Linked DNA regions of Homo sapiens. The protein of the gene in region 1 purifies or fractionates together with the protein of each later gene. This does not show direct contact. Each region holds a gene or a part of one and is shown on either strand. Other genes may lie near its edges.

Evidence for each region. The genes of interacting proteins can lie anywhere in the genome.
Region 2: the proteins of FOXP1 (region 1) and ZNF148 purify together in Homo sapiens (affinity purification with mass spectrometry, with the first as the bait; one study listed by BioGRID). This does not show direct contact.
Region 3: the proteins of FOXP1 (region 1) and VPS33B purify together in Homo sapiens (affinity purification with mass spectrometry, with the first as the bait; one large-scale study listed by BioGRID). This does not show direct contact.
Region 4: the proteins of FOXP1 (region 1) and NUP155 purify together in Homo sapiens (affinity purification with mass spectrometry, with the first as the bait; one large-scale study listed by BioGRID). This does not show direct contact.

What each region holds. Positions count from the first base shown.
Region 1 is NC_000003.12:70,975,229-70,978,728, forward strand, and holds part of FOXP1 (forkhead box protein P1), read right to left. Parts: intron 2,802-3,500; coding exon 2,600-2,801; intron 2,495-2,599; coding exon 2,415-2,494; intron 1,815-2,414; coding exon 1,713-1,814; intron 1-1,712. UniProt on the Homo sapiens protein: Transcriptional repressor. Can act with CTBP1 to synergistically repress transcription but CTPBP1 is not essential. Plays an important role in the specification and differentiation of lung epithelium.
Region 2 is NC_000003.12:125,232,326-125,235,825, forward strand, and holds part of ZNF148 (zinc finger protein 148), read right to left. Parts: intron 2,005-3,500; coding exon 1,886-2,004; intron 1,615-1,885; coding exon 16-1,614; 3' UTR 1-15. UniProt on the Homo sapiens protein: Involved in transcriptional regulation. Represses the transcription of a number of genes including gastrin, stromelysin and enolase. Binds to the G-rich box in the enhancer region of these genes.
Region 3 is NC_000015.10:91,005,595-91,009,094, forward strand, and holds part of VPS33B (vacuolar protein sorting-associated protein 33B), read right to left. Parts: intron 3,383-3,500; coding exon of another isoform or gene 3,310-3,382; intron 2,371-3,309; coding exon 2,276-2,370; intron 1,980-2,275; coding exon 1,875-1,979; intron 1,453-1,874; coding exon 1,356-1,452; intron 1,136-1,355; coding exon 1,058-1,135; intron 852-1,057; coding exon 778-851; intron 466-777; coding exon 379-465; intron 191-378; coding exon 100-190; intron 1-99. UniProt on the Homo sapiens protein: May play a role in vesicle-mediated protein trafficking to lysosomal compartments and in membrane docking/fusion reactions of late endosomes/lysosomes.
Region 4 is NC_000005.10:37,364,607-37,368,106, forward strand, and holds part of NUP155 (nuclear pore complex protein Nup155), read right to left. Parts: intron 1-3,500.

The DNA.
Region 1 (3,500 bases):
GGCAATCTGAAGAAAATGTCTGCCTCATGCTTCGACTTCCTAAATTTTTTAAAGCATTCATGGCTAAAGATCCTTTCATATTTTATCTTCCAAGGCAGGCTGAGGCAAAGAGGGTAAGATTTTGAACATAGGTTCCCTTCAGTGCCCATGTGTCTTAATGGAAATGAAAGGATAATTTGGGCCATAATGGATATTCACAGCTCTGTAAAGTTGATGAATTAATTCTATGGTTATATTCGTTTTCTTTTAAAATGCTAATTTATCAGGAACTTAACAGAGGAAATGTATTTTTCTGTCTTTTGCTTTGGTTTTTCTCCGGTATAAAATTAAGGAATTAGCAAGGAAGGCATTTATTTCAGGCGAAGGAAGTTTTCCTTGTGTCCTATAACACATCCTTATCATATTTAGATTAATGGCATGTAAAAATAGCCTCAAATGTTTGTTATCACATGTCTCTAAATGTTTTGGATTTCAGGGATTACAAGAATTCCAGGTAGTAAAAAATGCAAAAATACAAATGACAGAGTGTACCTGTCCCCTTCTATAAGCAAGAATATTAGACACCAAGAAATCAAAAATGGGAAAGCCCAAAAATATGTGAGGGATCAATCTAATATAAGGGAGTAAATACCAGTGGAATCTTTGAGCCAGCTGCTGACCTGGGAATGAGGTAAGCCATATATGACCCCAAGCACTACTGGGGGCATCCAATAAAGAGCTATGCAATTTGACTTGTTTTTACAGCAAATAGTATTATAATGAATATAATGAAGTTCGAAATCTACTTTTCTTCCTTAGTATATCTATGAGGGACAATCTCCTTTTTTTTTTTTTTTTTTGAGACAGGGTCTTGCTCTGTTGCCCAGGCTGGAGTGCAGTGGCATGAACAGGGCTCACTGCAGCCTCAACCTCCTTGCCTCAAGCAATCGTCCCACCTCTGCCTCTGGAGTAGCTGTTGACCACAGGTGCATGCCACCATGCCTGGCTAATTCATTGAATTTTTTTTGTAGAGACAGGGTCTCGCTACGTTGCCCAGGCTGGTCTCTAACTCCTGAGCTCAAGTGATCCTCTTGCCTTAGCCTCCCAAAGTGCTGGGATTATAGGCATGAGCCACTGTGCCTGGCCGACAATCTCTTGACTTAAAACCAAAAAAAGAAAAACAAAAACCCCTGCCCCTTAATAATACATTGTGTTCTCCATTAATAACTCCTACAAACAGTGCTAGTGCTTGGATTGCACAGCTTTCTCTACTAATTGGGTTAATGAGCTATTTATCCAACCATTGAAGGCTGTGTCAAGTTTGGTCATTTCTCCAGGTTCCATCTCTGGAGATAGATCGCTGGAGATACATCTCTGCAAATATCGGCTGTGGCTGAAGACCTAACGGCATGAGGTTTGTGCAAGTAATATGGCAACCTCCACTTCTGGGCGACGGTGTTGTCTCCTTTTCTCTACATATTCCAACCAGAGAGAGATCACTTTACTGGCTGGCCCCTCCACACTGCTGATGCTGGTATAATGGGAGTCTTCCATCAGAGCATTTCAACCACAATGGCACTATTTTCCCAATCAAATACACCTAGAGATTGGACACTTTAAGAGTATCAAAACAATATAAATGTAGCTTCCTTATAGCACAACTGCATTTTATCAACAACAAACTGTTCTATGAACGTCAAGATCCAAGAATAAACAGGCCTGAGAAAGCTTACCTTCCACGTGGCCGCGTTGCGTCGGAAGTAAGCAAACATTCGTGTGAACCAGTTATAGATCTCATTTAGTGTTAGCTGCTTTTCTGGAGATTCGAGAATGGCCTGTGAAGCAGAATGTAACAGAAGATAATTTATGACCAAATCAGCAGAGTCGTCATTCCACAGTTTCTCGAAAATATAAAATCACTGTGATTCAGAGCTAAATCCTGAGAAAGGTTTTACAAAATGATCTAAGATTAATGGTTGTATTTAACAGTTCAATAGCAAAATTCAAAATGGAATTATCTAATTGTTTTGAGTTTTTATTTCTGTTTCCGTACAGAAATATTAATTTATTAGTCATTCATAAAGCAGAATCAAAGAGAAATGCAAAACATTTCACTAGCTGATTAAAGCTCAGTAATTATTTAGAGCTCAGATTAATTCTAGGGATCAGAGATTACTGTAGCTTGTGATAATTGACTTGCCATCTTTAAACAGGCTCATTTTCACTGTTGTGTGAAATGAATTTCCTAATAATCACATCGTATTGTAATACTTAATCAAAAGCAATTATGTTATATATTGCAGTTTTAAAAAACCTTATAGAAAAGGTTTCAGCATGCTTGCATACTAAACGGTTTTTAAATCTACTTCATCAATATATATCCATGTACACATATACCTTCTGACAGAATTTCATATACTGTGTTATTTACTTACCTGCCTAATTAAAGATGCATATGTAAATGGTGGTCTAACTTCTGCGTTCTTATAAAATTCTTGGTTCTGCGCAATATCTGCTGAATAAGAATCATTGTCCTATTAATTATCACTTTTTCAAAAGGGGCTGGTCTACAAGAATTGCAGATTACAACTCTACGTGAGGCAAAAGGTGGAGTATCTACCTGACGAAATGGGCACGTTGTATTTGTCTGAGTACCGCCTGCGGATGGGTCCCACCGTGTGCATGCTGGTGGTTGTGATGACAGAGGGGCCTTGGGTGACGGGAGTCAGGGGGGCGGTTGGGGTCGTTGGAGTATGAGGTAAGCTCTGTGGAGAAGCCTCCGATGCGGACTTGGAGAGAGTGACACTTGATACCAGATTCAACTGCAAGGAAAAAAACAACGTCTTAGAAGACCTTCAGAAAACCAGAGCAACCCAGGAACCACATCTAGCAGGAGTAACACAGAGGATGCGTGGGCACCGTTTCTTCCTCTATGTAGATGGTATGTTTACCATGAACCGAAACACACGGTGAGTCCTGCGTGAATTCACTTAGGATGCAGTGTAAGATATCTCTGGCAGCGGTCTCTTTTCCAAAGGCTGCTACATGGGTGTTTACAGGCTCAAAAAGGGGTTACCTACCTGAGGGAGTGTGAGAAACCCTGAGTCAAGACATTTATTTCATTGTGATGTCTCACCTATAGGCTTTGATCGCCCATCAGGCCTTGTCAACCTCAAAGAGGGAGAGAAGTCCTTAGCAATACCAGTGAAGCTGAGTATTTTAGGTGACACCAGTTGGGATACGCTGGTGTAGATCTGAAGAAGTGTCCAGCAGAATTTCTGCAATATGCTAGCACAACCAAAGAGCTGTTTTTACTTGATTTTTATTAAAATTAAACTTTAATAAATGTAAATGGAAAGAGCCCCATGTGGCTAGTAGCTACCATACTAGACAGCCCAGGAAGAGCCTACTGAGCTCCCTCATGCAGCTTCGTGGATGACGAGAACTCCTGCAAATATGTGTGGCCTATTTATTACTCATATTAAACACAATGGGCCTGACCCCACCAGCTGTCATTTGTT
Region 2 (3,500 bases), about 54 Mb from region 1:
ACTTTTTTTTTTTTTTTAGCCAAAAGTCTGGCCAGTTGTGGCATCAGGTGAAGATGTCATCCCAGCTCTATTATCATTTACATTCACCAAGGGAAATTCTGAAAATTCAGCACTTGTCCCTGGTCCCCGAAGGTTCACCTGTCCATTGGCAGTGCTAAATTGAGTAGCTATTCCAGCTCTTGATCCATGATAGGGAGCACGGAAGGGCTGTTCAAAGGAGCTCATTTGGTAAGCTTGGTGGACAGGCTGGGCCTCAGCTTTCTTCTGAGAAGTCACTTGATCCAGAAAGTCCTGTGTTGATGTGGCAGAAGCATGGTTTGTCTCATCACCTGAAAAGGGAAATGAGTGCTGTGAATCACCAACTATTAGTCCAAAGTGGGACTTATCTGGAGTTGTTCTTAGTGGAGAATTCATTCCTGATCGAAAGCTATTGATGGGCATGGTGGCATAGACCTGCTTGTCTATGGAAGAGAATGCTGGCTGATTTGGGAGGGTCTGGTTATCAGTCACAAAGTTAAGGCTCGGGCTATTCAAATAGGCATCATTTTGGCTAGTTCTGTCCAAAGCCTGCTGCAGAAACTTGGAGTATTCCTGCAACATGTTGGCTTTATCTGATGAGGATGCTTGGGAGCTTGATCCAACATTCTCTGACGGGGTGACCTCTGGTACTTCTGAAGAATTTATTGATATGCTAGAAGTCACTTCAGTATCTGCAACACTGAAGGATATCTCATGCTGTCCATTAGCTTTGTGGGAATAATGATCCAACAGAGTCTGCAGTACCTCATCTGGAATAACATTTTTGTCATGATTACTCTTAATCTCCACATTCAGTGCCTGTGACTCTAATATGGATGCCGTGGTACTTTCATCAATGACACTTGCCACAGCTGCTTGTGTTACAGAAGGCTGAGAAGCTATGGTACCCACATTCAGCGCATATTCCCTGCTGTTGTTACTTGCTGCTTGAAGATACCGCTTCTTCTTCAAAAACTGCATGGCATCATCATAATTAGTACTACTATGCACAGGTTTACTGGGCCCCTCCTGCAAATTATCAACCTGATCAATGTCAGCATTGCCTTCTGAGTCCAGTAAAGCCTGTTTATCCACAAGTTCAAAAGCATACTTTGAAACTTTGCTCTCTTCATATGTGGATAAAGGTGAAATTGTTTGATTTTGCTCCAGTGGCTGTTTCAGACTTCTCTTACTATTAATTTTTTTGAGAACTAACTTAGGTGGGTGTATTTCTCCTGACGCATCTTCTAAATGCGAGCCCCCAACTGACGAATGTGGCATTTCAACAGCATATTCTGCAACCATATACTCATCTTTTACTTTAGTACTTGAAGAATAAAGAGGCAAGTAATCATTTTTGTCTTTTTTCAGGTCAGATTTGTCCAAAGCACTCTCTTTGTCCATTCCAGATGATTTTTTCTCCGTTTTCTGCCTTTTCTTTTTTGGCAGTGAGTTGTCTTTTGGTGATGTAGAAAAGCCAGAATCTTCCTCAGATGTCAGAAGGCCACCTTTGATGGCACATCTATTTAGTTTTTTGTCATGATTTTCATGGCACATACGTTTATGTTTCAATACACGATCTGTTCTGGAAAAATACTGTTGAATTCAGAGGATGGTAGTGGGTTGTTTGTGGTTTTGGTCAACCAAGAAAAGAAAAAGTGAAACAAAACAATTAATATAAAGATATATTAATGCAATAACATACATAATTCCAAACAAATTCACTGAGCCAATTTTCTATTATAAATCTAATCTGTAAGAGTTAGAAGGCCCCTTAAATAGCTCTAAGTTGTAATATTTTCTAATCTAATTTATAATTATTGTATAATTTAATTACAGTAGAAGAATTTCAAGCCATCTCTCTTACCTGTAAACAGTATTCACACTGGTAAGGTTTTTCTCCACTATGAGTTCTCTTATGCCTTTCCATATGATATTTTTGTATGAATCTCATACCACATTCATCACAGCGAAATGGTTTTTCACCTAGCACATAATATAGAAAGTTTAAAACAAAACAAATATTGTAAAATAATGAATTGCTTTGCCATAAGAATCTCTAAAATAAATGGCTTTTGAAAGTTGTAACTTCCAATTTCATTTGTCAAATATATTTTGCTTTATAAAAATGAAAAGGATTAGCATATGCTATTGGAAAGAAAAGGATGAATACAGGCACAGTCCATTTTCCTGTCTTTTTGTTATGTGCGTATGTAATACCCTCTTTCCAAGGAGAACAGCAGTGCCAGGAATTTATAGCAATATGAACAGACTAGCTGATGTTTCTAATCTTTTTTTCAATCATATAAAATATTGTATAACAGTAAAAAACAAAAAGTTACCCATGCACAATACAACACAATTCCTGGAGACAGTTTTTTAACTCAATTCCTTTTTTAAAACATTTGTGGTTAAATAAAATCTGAATCCTGAAAATATCCTTTAAAATCTAATTTAATAAAATACAAAAAGAACTTAGAGTCTTAAGTTTGTTTATATTTATTCTTTTCCTCAACTCAAGCCAGCACTTCCCATATCATTTAGGGAATGAATTAAACTGAGTATTGTTAATTGGACACATAACACATAACCCCCATTTTTGAAAATCCCCTAATGACTCCTAGAATCTTCTGATTCATAGTCAGGTGTGTTATCCATTGTGCCACTGGCCCCCGCAATGATTTCTAAGCTGTAAAGAACCACTACTATGAAGCTCTAAAATAGTTTTTACTGATAAAACCACAGTCTAAGTAAACAGAAGGGTATGACAAGAAGTTACCTTGAATAATGCTTGTTGGGGAAACTACTGTTTCTCCCTTTCATACATTTAACAAAATTTTTACCAAATACTACTACTATATCCAAACCCCTTGTTGTAGGAGGTTAAAAGTATAAGACATACTACTTGTCTTCAAAGTTTATAACATAATTGGGAAAACAAGATACACACATTTTAAAAAGACAACTAACAACACTATGTCTATTCTGATTTACTTTTACATCTTTATATTTCACTCTTTCTCTTGGTAACCCTTTCAGACAAACCGAAATACCTACCATCTCATGCTTTCCTACTTTTGCCCTGATTCACGCTGCTCCTTCGATTGGGAATGTCCACCTTTGGGTGTTCAAATACTATATTCCCTTTGAGACCCAACCCATCTCCTTTGGGATACTCTGTCCTTTTCTCCCAGGTGAAAGGTATCTTTAAGTTTCCACAGAATTCTATCTGTACCTCTTCTATGGCACTCAGTACTTTCAACTCAATAATCATTGAGTTAAACTTTTTTTAAATTTCAAATTACTGAGTTGTTTACTGCTGCACTATTCACAATAGCAAAGACTTGGAACCAACCCAAATGTCCAACAACGATAGACTGGATTAAGAAAATGTGGCACATATACACCATGGAATACTATGCAGCCATAAAAAAGGATGAGTTCATGTCCTTTGTAGGGACATGGATGAAGCTGGAAACCAT
Region 3 (3,500 bases), on another chromosome or scaffold:
AGATGAACAGGGATCTCCTCCTCGGGAGTAATGGTCCTCTGGAGCTTTCCCCAGAGGGACACAGTCACTTCCCCTCACGCCCCTCAAGCTGAAACCTACGGAGACTCAGCAGGCGGTGCTCCTGTTTCAGGCCCTTGAGCTCCTGGGACACGAAATTCTTCATCTGCTTAATGTCCATGCCTCTCCGGCGCTGTGGGAAAATTCCCAAAGGTGAACCCCCCAACCTCAGACACGAGAAACCACCACCCTCCCTCAGTTGCCATCCATCCATGAGAAAGGACAGGGAACCTGTCATAGTATTAGAAGGGGAGCCCAAGGGCAGCAGCCTTGGGAAGCCACTGAGGCAACAAAACAGAGGAGCAGGGCTTGGAGCCTCACATCATACTGGGCCTGCAAGTTCCGGGCCTTCTGGCTCAAGAAGCCAAAGACATTGGAGAAGTGCTCGTTCCGAATCTCATTAAACACCTGTGAGGACAGTAAGACAAGAACAGCTTACTCTGTCAGAACCATAACTTAGCAGTAGAATGACAGTACAGGAAGGGTACTCAGGTGTTCTGGCAGAAATACAAAGAAAGCTGAGCTGGGATCTGTAAGTCCATATCAAATGCCTACACCGTGTTCTAGGAGATGCTCTGAACTGGTGGGGAAACCCTCTCTCCCATAGACTCAGCCTCCCCTCTCAGAGCTGGGGCCCACAGCCTGGTATAAGCAGGGGGCCCACAGCCTGGTATAAGCAGTGGCCCTAGGTGGGCCCATTGCTAGCACCCACACCCTCACCTTGTCCTCGGCATTGAGTAGCACCTTCAGGCTCTTGTCAGAGGATGTGACTTCTGGGCCAAAGTCGACACTCCCTTTGAGAGCAGAGGGACAGCTATTAGGATCTCCAATGAGGACTTCTCCTACCATTCCCTGAACTGCCATAAAGGTCCTCAAACTATTTGGAAGCCAGCAGTTCATTCAGGGTCTGGGTCTCTCCCACAAACCCTGCCCCACGTGGGAGGTGCCAAGGCTGATGACCCGTCCATCTTGCCAAGATGCAGAGGACCATAGCACTTACCACACTTGATGCGGAAGGTGTCATCTACTAGGCCCTCATAAACCACTTGGGAGCAAAGTGCTGTCACAAAGTCCACATCTGAAACAGAGATCCCTGACCATGAAGGTTCTCCCTGACCCAGCCTTCTACACAGCATGTCCAAGGGCAGCTTTGATACTTTCCATAGGGCCAAGGACCCACGCTCCTCAAAGCTGGGATTCACAGCCCTAACTTTAGGATTTTAACTTTGCCACCACGCCTTCCATATTCCCGTGTCTTCTAGGGCTGAAAGATGACAGGAACGCTGGGCATAATTTACCTCTGTCCAAGAGAAAGATATGTCCAATCTCTGGCCTTCGGCCCTTGGTTTCGCCATCCTCCTCCTCCTCCAGGTTCCTCCACAATTCATATGCCATCTGCCAGGGCCCAAGACATTCTCAGTCTTGTGTCCAGGTCCCTACTGCAGCCCCATACCTACAGAAGTCAGCCCTTTCCACGTGATACTTCCTCTTGTCCCCGAGACAGGAGCTAATTATTCACAATATGGCCCTATCTACTCCCGTCTGTGTCTATCTTTCCCCAACACTCTTCCTACTGATGAGAAGATGTGTTACTCTGTCCCCAAAATAAAAAGAGATTTAGGAATGCTACCCAGGAGATCCTGGCTTTTGCTTCTCTGTTAGCCACACAAGTTCTCCTCTCTGAGGATCTATTCCAGAACAATGAAAGCAAAGTAAAGAATACACCTCATATCACAGGTGCCCTTGGATAACCCCAGGAGGGTACAGAACAGGGAAAACAGCGTCTGCTGGGACAACAGTACTGCTAGTGCTCTTACCTTGGCGCACCTGCCAATTCCATAGCAGTTTGGAAAGGGTCCATAGAGAGTGCTGAGAAGGTGTAAGGCCTGAGCTACAGTGTTGATCCAACGCTGATCTCCTTCCTGCAGGGACCACACAAGCCACAAAGATATGAATCAACCCAGTAGGACCACCTGGAAAGTGGCTAGCCCTAGAAGCCCTGGAGCAGGGTGGCAGGGCCTGGGGGATGCTTGAAAGGTTTTCATTGGCTCCACAGGAAGTCCCACAGAGACCAATCTGTAGCACTCAATCACCACATCACTATCACTTGTGATAAATTACTTGCGTTGGACAAAGGTTATATTGGTATTTCTAGCCCTCTGCATCCCACATTTGTCCCCATCCCCTGATGCCAAGACACAAGGGCCTCTGCATTTACCAGAAAGTAATCCCTGAAAAATTCTGGTAGTTCCATGCTCAGCAGATCCACATCAAGAGGCAGCAAAGAGAAGGCCCATTCATCACAGCTCACATCTGTGGGGACAGAGAGCATCAGCCTCCCTGCAGAAGGTACTTAGCTCCACGTTAAGAGGGAAGGTCCGCCACAAATATTTGAGTGCGTGCAACAAATATATGAGTGCCTGCCACATGCCAGTACTGCATTAAGCAATGGAGGCTCAAAGAAGAATAAGACACAGTCCCTGCCCTTAAGGAGCTCACAGTCTGATAAGGAAAGGAGATGTGTCCACAGCAGCCTGTAATACAATGTGATAAGTGGTGGGTTTTTACTAGAGGGCTGACCAAAAGTGCCGAGAAAACATTCATTCATTCATTATTTATTTATTTATTTAGAGATGGAGTTTAGCAATTTTCATCCAGGCTGGAGTGCAATGGTGCAGTCTCGGCTCACTGCAACCTCCGCCTCCTGGGTTCAAGCAATTCTCCTGCCTCAGCCTCCCAAGTAGCTGGGATTACAGGTGCACGCCACCATGCCCAGCTAATTTTTGTATTTTTGGCAGAGACGGGGTTTTGCCATGTTGGCCAGGCTTGTCTCAAACTTCTGACCTCTGGTGATCTGCCTGCCTTGGCCTCTCAAAGTGCTGGGATTACAGGTGTGAGCCACCACGCCCAGCTCACTCATTCATTATTCAGCATATATTTACTGAAAGCTGCCTACATGTAGGACTGTATGAACACCAGAGATACAGCAGTGAGCAAAATGGACATGCTCCCAACCTTCTGGAGCTTACAGTCTAGTGAGGGAGACACACCAGACAAATTATGACACAAACTATTAAATCACGGTTGTGCTCCAAAGAGGTCAAACAGCAAGCTGTGAGCACATATATTAAAGGGATGTAACCACAACTGGGGGTATAGGAAAGACTTCCCTCAAGAAGAGAAAATCAAGCTTAGAATTTGGGTAAGACTCGGGAAGGCAAAAAGCTATAGGGTGGAGAACGTTCTGGGTACCTGGAAAAGCATGGGTAAAGTCTCTCTGGCTGGAGGGTGGCGAGTCAGGAGAAGGAAGCAGCACACGATGAGGCTAATGGGACAGGAGGGGCCAGACTGTGCAAGGGATAGGAGGCATGTTGGGGATTCTGGGCTTTATATTGAGCCGCTGCTATTTCCAGCAGGGAGGGCTGTGATCAGGTTTGGGTTGT
Region 4 (3,500 bases), on another chromosome or scaffold:
GCTCTGTAACAAAGGAAATGTTTATTTTATTTTATTTTTTTTTTTTTTGAGATAGAGTCTCGCACTGTCGCCCAGGCTGGAGTGCAGTGGCACAATCTCGGCTCACTGCAAGCTCCACCTCCCGGGTTCACGCCATTCTCCTGCCTCAGTCTCCCAAGTAGCTGAGACTACAGGCGTCCGCCACCACACCCGGCTAATTTTTTGTATTTTTAGTAGAAACGGGGTTTCACCGTGTTAGCCAGGCTGGTCTTGATCTCCTGACCTCATGATCCGCCCGCCTCGGCCTCCCAAAAGGCTAGGATTACAGGTGTGAGCCACCGTGCCCAGCTGGAAATGTTTAAATTTGATAATTTAGTGTTATTTTAAAATAAAAGTGGCTGGGCGCAGTGGCTCAAGCCTGTAATCCTAGCACTTTGGGAGGCCGAGGTAGGAGGATCATGAGGTCAGGAGTTTGAGACTAGCCTGGCCAACATGGTGAAACTCCATCTCTACTAAAGACACAAAAAATTAGCCTGCCTGGTGGCGTGCGCCTATAATCCCAGCTACTGCGGAGGCTGAGGCAGAACTGCTTGAACCCGGGAGGCGGAAGTTGCAGTGAGCTGAGATTGTGTCATTGCATTCCAGCCTGAGCGACAGGGCAAGACTCTGTCTCAAAAATAAATAAATAAATAAATAAACAAAATGAAAGCATGTAATTGTATTGTTTGTAACACAAAGGATAAATGCTTGAGAGGATAGATACCCCATTTTCCCTGATGTGATCATTTCACATTGCATGCCTGTATCAAAACATCTCATGCACCACATAAATATATACACCGTTGGGCGCGGTAGCTCACGCCTGTAATCCCAGCACTTTGGGAGGCAGAGGCAAGCCGATCACAAGGTCAGGAGTTCAAGACCAGCCTGGCCAAAATGGTGAAACCCTGTCTCCACTAAAAATACAAAAAAATTAGCCAGGCACAGTAGCAAGCACCTATAATCCCAGCTACTTGGGAGGCTGAGGCAGGAGAACTGCTTGAACCTGGGAGGCGGAGGCAGCAGTGAGCCAAGATCGTGCCACTGCACTCCAGCCAGGGTGACAGAGCAAGACTCTGTCTCGGGGAGAAAAAAAAAAAAAAAAAAAAAAAAAATATATATATATATACACACACACACACACACACACACACACACACACACACACAGACGCCTACTATGTACACACAAAATTAAAAATAAAAAAATTTAAAAATAATAATTTAGTGTTTTTCTATCATTTTGCTAATCTGAAATGGGAAAATATAAAACTGCTTTGGGGCTCAAAGGTAAAATGACTATAAGCAAACAAAATAATGACTGGGGGAAAATACTGCCTTTACCAGCTAAACATTTATAGATTAAAACAACCCATGACTTTTCCCTTTAGATTTATCCCCAAGACCACTAAGACAAATACAAATAATACCCCACAAGCAGTATCTTATTGGGGGGATAAAAACAAAGACTGCTCTATAAAGTGTTCTCATGGGCAACCTTTCTCTTGCTCTAAGACTCCATCACTAAGGACAGGAGTGGGCTGGTCTACTCAGCCTACCCTTGCTCCCGGACAAGGCGTTATTTAGACCTGACTGATGACCTACTTATCTCAGGCACTTTCTCAGGTTCTATAGAGTACAAAGATGTTAAGGAAAACTGACATATAAAACAATCTTGAAGTGTATTATGGAAATTTTTAAAATATATATAAGAAAAATACAATAAATACCCATGTACTGATTATCCAACTTAATAACCAGTAATATCCCCAATCATGTTTCATTTTTATCATTGTTCACTCCTTCCCCAATTATCTTTTTATTTTTATTTTTTGAGACGGAGTCTCGCTCTGACGCCAAGCTAGAGTGCATTGGCGCGATCTCAGCTCACTGCAACCTCCAATTCCCTGGTTCAAGGGATTCTCCTGCCTCAGACTCCCGGGTAGCTGGGATTACAGGCATGAGCCACCACGCCCAGCTAATTTTTGTAGTTTTAATAGAGACAAGGTTTCACCATGTTGGCCAGGATAGTCTCAATCTTTTTTTTTTTTTTTTTGAGACGGAGTCTCACAGGCTGGAGTGCAGTGGCCTGATCTCAGCTCACTGCAAGCTCCACCACCTGGGTTCAGGCCATTCTTCTGTCTCAGCCTCCCAAGTAGCTGGGACTACAGGCGCCTGTTGCCACGCCAGGCTAATTTTTTTATTTTTAGTAGAGACGGGGTGTCACCGTGTTAGCCAGGATGGTCTCGATCTCCCGACCTCGTGATCTGCCCGCTTCGGCCTCCCAAAGTGCTGGGATTACAGGCGTGAGCCACCGTGCCCGGCCGGTCTCAATCTCTTGACCTCGTAATCCGCCTGCCTTGGCCTCCCAAAGTGCTGGGATTACAGATGTGAGCCACTGCACCCGGCCGAACTCTTTTTCTCTTTTTTTTTTTTTCCTGAGACGGGGTTTCACTCTGTCGCCTTGGCTGGAATGCAGTGGTGCAATCACAGCTCAGGGCAACCTCAGCCTCTTGGGCTCAAGCAATCTTCCACCACAGCCTCGTGAGTAGCTAGGACTACAGTGTCATGACACCATGCCTAGCTAATTTTTTTTTTGTTTTTGGGGTTTTTTTTTGGGATGGGCTCTCGCTCTGTCGCCCAGGCTGTAGTGCAATGGCGGCTCACTGCAACCTCTGCCTCCCAGGTTCAAGAGATTCTCCTGCCTCAGCCTCCCGAGATGCCAGGACTACAGGAGTGTGCCACCACACCCGGCTAATTTTTGTATTTTTAGTAGAGACAGGATTTCGCCATGATGGCCAGGCTAGTCTCAAACTCCTGACCTCAAGTGATCCACTCACCTTTGCCTCCCAAATTGCTGAGATTACAGGAGTAAACCACCGAGCCCAGCCAAACAGCATTTTTCTTTTTCCTTTTTTTTTTTTTTTGAGACGGAGTCTCACTCTGTCGCCCAGGCTGGAATGCAGTGGCGCGATCTCGGCTCACTGCAAGCTCCGCCTCCCGGGTTCACACCATTCTCCTGTCTCAGCCTCCGGAGTAGCTGGGACTATAGGCGCCCGCCACCACGCCCGGCTAATTATTTTGTATTTTTAGTAGAGATGGGGGTTTCACCATGTTAGCCAGGATGGTCTCATCTCCTGACCTCGTGATCCGCCCACCTGGGCCTCCCATTTCTTTTGAGAAAGAGTCTCCCTCTATTGCCCTGGCTGGAGTACAGTGGCGCGATCTCGGCTCACTGCAACTTCCGCCTCCCTGGTTCAAGCGATTGTCCTGCCTCAGCCTCCTGAATAACTGGGATTACAGCCATGAGCCACCACACCCAGCTAATTTTTGTATTTTTAGTAGAGACGGGGTTTTACCACGTTGGTCAGGCTGGTCTTGAACTCCTAACCTCGTGATCTGCCACCTCAGCCTCCCAAAGTGCTGGGATTATGGGCGTGAGCCACCGCACCCAGCCACTTTTTGTAGAGACAGGGTTTTGCC